Linked DNA regions of Homo sapiens: region 2 is linked to region 1. The links come from fine-mapping of genetic effects on gene expression. A gene starts in region 1. The other region holds a variant in brackets. All regions are shown on one strand. Distances are between the middles of the regions.

The links. PIP is the estimated chance that this variant, and not a neighbour inherited with it, causes the effect. A credible set is the group of variants that fine-mapping cannot tell apart.
Region 2: its variant is the best candidate, but not a certain one, in a credible set for the expression of SPDYA in whole blood (TOPMed, PIP 0.61).

What each region holds. Positions count from the first base shown.
Region 1 is chr2:28,809,198-28,812,101 of GRCh38, reverse strand. It overlaps SPDYA (speedy/RINGO cell cycle regulator family member A), which reads right to left and starts at 1,268. Exons shown (of 8, transcript NM_182756.4): 1 at 1,155-1,268. RefSeq lists silencers at 1,238-1,487, 1,518-1,667.
Region 2 is chr2:28,623,667-28,626,570 of GRCh38, reverse strand. It overlaps PLB1 (phospholipase B1), which reads right to left. Exons shown (of 58, transcript NM_153021.5): 50 at 1,463-1,514; 51 at 63-143. Among named protein-coding and RNA genes, the nearest start is that of PPP1CB-DT, 130 kb to the left of the region's middle. RefSeq lists enhancers at 1,342-1,501, 1,592-1,741. The variant G/C (reference allele first, on the strand shown) is at 1,632.

The sequences.
Region 1 (2,904 bases):
CTCATAGTAAGTGATAAAGCTAGAATTTGAATGCAGAACTGACATCAAAGTCCCATATTCTTTAACCAGTAAATCAGTTTTAAATATTAAATAAAATCATGTGTAAAACACTTGACACATAGTAAGCACTCCAGTATTACTTATCGTCACCTTGCCAAGAAAACAAAACCAGCTAACCCCAGCTATAAGGCGATCTCGGATCACTGCCACCTCTGCCTCCCGGGTTCAAGCGATTCTCCCGCCTCAGCCTCCCGAGGAGCTGGGATTACAGGCGCCCGCCACCATGCCAGGATACTTTTTTTTTAAGTTATTTTTTGTAGAGACGGGTTTTAGCTCACTGCAACCTCCGCTTCCAGGGTTCAAGCGATTCTCCCGCCTCAGCCTCCCAAGTAGCTGGGATTACAAGTGCGCACCACCATGCCCGGTTAATTTTTTTTTTCATTATTTTTTTGTAGAGACGGGGTTTTCGCTGTGGGCTGCTCTCGAATCCTGGCCTCAAGGATTCGCCCAACTCGGCATAAGGCTTTTTAAAAGATTGAGGCTAGGGGCCCTCCAGTCCTACTGGATGTCATGTAAGAGAATCTTCGTGAATTCTGAGAAATGAGCTACGGGCCTGGTACTGAGACACAGCAGCTCAGATCTCAAAATTCTGGGGCAGACGATCTTGGGGACAAAAAGAGGTGTTTAATGGGACATAAGGAGGTAGGATTTATCAAAAAGACCCCCCAAATCTCCATTCCTCCCACAATAAAGGCGGCAGGCACACGTGGAGACGGGAGCGCCTGCCCAGGGCCCTCCCTCCGAGCAGACGGCCGAGCTTCGGGAGCAGCCTCCGGTATCGGCCCTGCCCGTCCTTCCCCTGGAACCTTCACCCGCTACGCCGCCGGGCGGAGGGCGGCCAAAGCCCCAACCTGCGCGGCCACTGCCTCCCTCGCCAGGTCCCTCAGCCCAGAGCCCGCTGCGGGGAGCGCGTGTGTCGTCGCCGCGAAGGCAGCTGAGGGCGCCCACGGGAGGCGGCGTGAGGACGAGGCTGGAGCGCTGCCTTCTCATCTAAGGCGGGCGGTGGGGTCGCCGGCGAGCGAACCCAGGGACCGGGCACACTCGAAACTGGAGATTCGCCTGCGAGGCCCCTTCCCGGGGGCGAGCACAGGTACCTGCGGAAGCCCGGGGCTGCGCGGGAGAGGGCCGGGCAACGGCGGTCAAGGCTCCGTCGCAGCGCTCCTGGCCTCAGACGGTTGCTCGTCGGTCGCTAGCCAGCAGCGGTACCCGCTCTAAGGTCTCCCGCCAACCCGGAGCGAGGGAGCGCGAGGCCGGCAGGGGCCAATCAGCGCGCACAGCCGGCCGAGGGGGCGGGGCCTGCCTGGGAGTGCGCGCCGGCGAACCCCGCCCCTCCCTGCCCCCCGCCCGCCCGAGCCTCGGCCGCGGGCCTCCCTCCTCCGTTATCCCGCCTGCCCGCGCAAAACTCACACAACCCTCTTCATTCGACCTACCTCCCTTGGGCACGTCTCGCAGTCAGGCTTGCGTTGGGGCCGTTTACTTCCCTTCGATTAGACAACCAGGCCCCCGGGGCTGGGGCTGCGGCCTCCCCTCCCCGCCCGGCACACGCGGGCACAGCGTGGTTACCCTGGTTACTCAAAAGGAAGAGGCCGCTTGAACTGAGAAAAGCACAACGTGTGAATACGGTGGCTTCTTGTGAGAAGGGGCCATTCTATTGTAACTGTGAATCTGCAGCAGTAATCTTTTTGGCTTTGTCCTAGCCTTTGACTACGTGGGTGCTTAATACATGCATGTTGAATGAACAAATAAAAAGAATTCTAAACAGCTTTTTGATCCCATCCTTTCCTTATGTCCCTCCTAAGGTATAACCGGCTTTTTCTTTCTTTTTGAGACTGAGTCCCGCTCTGTCGCCCAGGCTGGAGCAGTGGCACGATCTCGGCTCACTGCATACCTCTGCCTCCCGGGTTCAAGCAGTTCTCCCGCCTCAGCCTCCTAAGTAGCTGGGACCACAGGTGCCGCCACGCCCGCCTAATTTTTAAACATGCCTTGTAGAGCAGAGTCCTATGTGGCCCAGGCTGGCCTTGAACTGAACTCAGGCAATCCTCCCACTGGGATTACAATCCTAAGCCACCACACCCAGTGTAAATCTTTTTTTTTTTTTTTTGGTCTCCATATCACGGCTTTTTTCATGTTGCTAGTCTTTCGAAACGTTTTCAATGACTGCATAATATTCCAGAGTGGATGGACCATTTAAGTCATTTCAATATTTGGATTGCTTCCAGATTTTTTGGCTAATACAATGATTACTCTTAAAAGGCAACCTGGCTCTGCCTACTTGTGGTACTTCCAGCAAATAGCTCCTCAATCAGCAGTTCTGAAGAACGAGTTAATTCCTTCCTTCTTGTGCTTCCACACACAGCACAATAATGACAAATTCACCTACAAGTACGAGGAGGGGGCCAACTGGGAACTTATTTTTCCTTACACATGCCCTTGACTCTTTCTCCCTGGCCTATAAATGGGAGAATGGGCCAAGAAGCATCAACTGGTTGTGAAAATCTTGAGGAAAATGGCTGCTTCAAGCTTCATTCCTCTAGCTTTTCCCTAAGGATCCTTCCTGACTTCTCTCTGCTCTTCCCCTTGTTTTTGCAAGGTACCGGTGTTGTGATGATTAATTTCCAGCCTCGAGTATAAAATATTTACTGAACAATTAATGTCCGCTACATGAAAAACACAGAGGCATGGCAAGTACCACAATGATGAAGACAACATGGCCTTACCTTTCTAGAGCTTCCAAGCTAGACAGATATGGACACAACTAAAATACAAGGCACAGTGAGTTGTGCCATGAAGGAAATGCAAGTGGCTGTATAACGCACAAAGTACAGTTATGAGAAGGTTCTTTAG
Region 2 (2,904 bases), 190 kb after region 1:
GGATGTTGCCAGAGGTCAGCACCTTCCTTCTCAGGTCCCCATGGGGTTGGTCGGGGGCCTACCGGATTCTCACAGTAATGACACAAGTCGTTGACCCCAATGAAGAGTGTGACCAGCTTCCAGTCTTTCTCCAGGTTGATGTCCTGAGGGGACAGAAGATCCTGAGTTTAGGCCTTGGTGGGAGGCACATACAAATGTTGCTACTGGGCCAGCCCGCCCGCCCTCCAAGTGCCTTTTGTCTTATTTATACTGTAACAGAGAAAAGCAGCAAATTGGGCCAGGCACGGTGGCTCACACCTGTAATCCCAGCACTTTGGGAGGCTGAGGCAGGTGGATCACCTGAGGTCAGGAGTTCGAGACCAGCCTGGCCAACATGATGAAACCCCGTCTCCACTAAAAATACAAAAATTAGCCTGGCCTGGTGGCAGGTGCCTGTAATCCCAGCTACTTGGGAGGCTGAGGCAGGAGAATCACTTGAACCCAGGAGGCAGATGCTGCAGTGAGCTGAGATCGCACCACTGCACTCCAGCCTGGGTGACAGAGCGAGACTCCGTCTAAAAAAAAAAAAAAAAGAAAAGCAACAAAGTGGGGCTTCCCAGCCCTCAATTGGTGCTAGGATAAGGTGCTCCACAGAGAGGATGTTTTTTTTTTTTGGCGGTGGGCGCTGGCGGGGGACGGGGTTCTGCTTACACAAGGGAGGGCTATTTTCCCCTTGAAATCTTAAGAAAGTTGTGTCCCTGGAGAAGTAGAATGTGGATGTGTCCCACATATCCTTGGCCCATTAAATGCCGAGGGGATTACCACGTCCCCCCAAATGAAGGCCTTCCAGGGAGCTGTAGGCAAAGGATGCAGCTAGAAGCAAAGGCCCTAAGCTGCCCCTGGGATGAGTTCTTAGGGTCGGGGGAAGGAGACTGGAGGAAGAGCCCAGCGTGGACTGAGAAGCGGGGTTGGGGCTGGGAGGCCCTCTAAGCAGTTGGCTTTCCACTTGGCCACCTCCATAATAGGAATCCCACCGGGAGCTGAATTCCTAGGCATAAACACTGAACGGTTAAAAAAAAAAGTGCTAGTGAGAAGTTTCAGAGGGGCAGGGTGAGGGGAAGGAGGCAGAACTGGATTGGAATGAGAAGCCTATTTTTAGAACCTTGCATTTACATAATAGGGCTCTGGGAAGCCACCTCTTGGTTAAAGCAGGAAGCTGTCAGAGGCCAAGGCCACCACCTCAGCCAACTCCCTGTTCCACCTTGCCCTCCCGCAGCCGGCCCTGGGGTGAGGGGTGCCACAGCCTGCGTCTAGGAGTGTGGCCAGGGCAGGCGCCTCCTTGGTAAGGACTGCTTCTCCGAGGATCTTTTGGCTAGCCCAAAGCAGGAAGTGCTGTGGTGAGAGGGACCCTTATGGGGCTGTCCCCTCCCCAGCCAGCAGGAGATGGGCACCTTTCAGGGGTGGCCTGGGGGCCTGTACTCACGGGGCTGTTTTTCATTCGCTCTACCAGGTCCCAGGCCTGGGCTGGCATGTCCCTAGGTGGGGGGTAGAGAGAGGGGCGTTAGTGCCGGCTCAGGAGCGAGGACTCACGACATGGGATTTTGGCCTAGGAAGAGAGGTGTTTCAAGAAGAATGATGTTACCAGTACAAAG[G/C]TCATTCCATTCTCAAGAAATCTCAGCTTAGTAACAATCACATGGCTGCCCTGGACCCTGGAGCCACATTGATCTAGCCCCTGCCACCCAATAGTCTCATCGGCCACTCGGGTTGGGATCCCGTCAAGCCTCCCCTCAGGACTTTCCCTTATACTTCCTCAAGCTCTTTCTTCGTAAGCCAAGCCTGTTCATTTCTTCTTCAGTTGCCTGTTTTAAAAATAACCTTTTGTATATTTGAGAAAAGTCACAGCTCTCAATTATCCCTCAGTTTTCTCCTTTCCAGGCTTAATGACTCCTTTAACCTTTACTTCTAAGCCCTGCTCTCTGCTCCTTTAATCCTTTTGTTTTTCTTTTCTGTGGTTACTTAGATTTCCGCACCATTCCCCATCTCCTCACTTTTTTTTTTCTCCCTCTCCAATAAACCAGGATGGACAGGATTAGTTCTCCCTTCATCCCCTGATGTCTGCCATAAATAAAACAATACCATTTGGTGTTCTGGATGAGCGATATGAATGCCAACGGAACACTACTCAGCCATAAAAAGGGACGAACTATTGGTATACCGAATAACATGGATGCATCGCAAAATCATTTTGCTAAATAAGTCAGATAAAAAGTATATACTCTTTGATCCCATTTATATAAAATTTTTAAAAATGCAAACTAATCTATTGTGATGGAAAGAAGGTTAGTGGTTGCCTGGGGTGTGAGGTAGGGACAGGAAGGAGCAGGAGGGAGAGATTACCAAGGGGCCTGAGAAAACTCCTGTGGGTGATGAACACATTTTTCATCTTGATTGTGGTGATGATTTCACAGGTACAATGTTAAATTGTATCCTTTTTGAGACAGGGTCTTGCTCTGTTGCCCAGGCTGGAGTGTAGTGGTGTGATCACGGCTCACTGCAGCCTCAACCCCTCTGAGCTCAAGTGATCCTCCCATCTCAGCCTTCCGAGTAGCTGGGACTACAGGTCCATGCCACCATGCCCGGCTAATTTTTTGTATTTTTGGTAGAGACAGGGTTTCACCAAGTTGCTCAGACTGGTCTCCAACTCCTGGGCAATCTGCCTACCTTGGCCTCCCAAAGTGCTGGGATTAGAGGCGTGAGCCACCGCACCCAGCCAAATTATATCCTTTTAACATGTGACGTTTATTGCATGTCATTTATACCTCAATAAAGCTGTGTTTAAAGAAATGTCTGTGAGAAGTTAGGTCAGCAAAGGGGATATAGCCAATGAAAGTGTCCATGGAAGAAGCCATAAAAGCAGCAACCAGT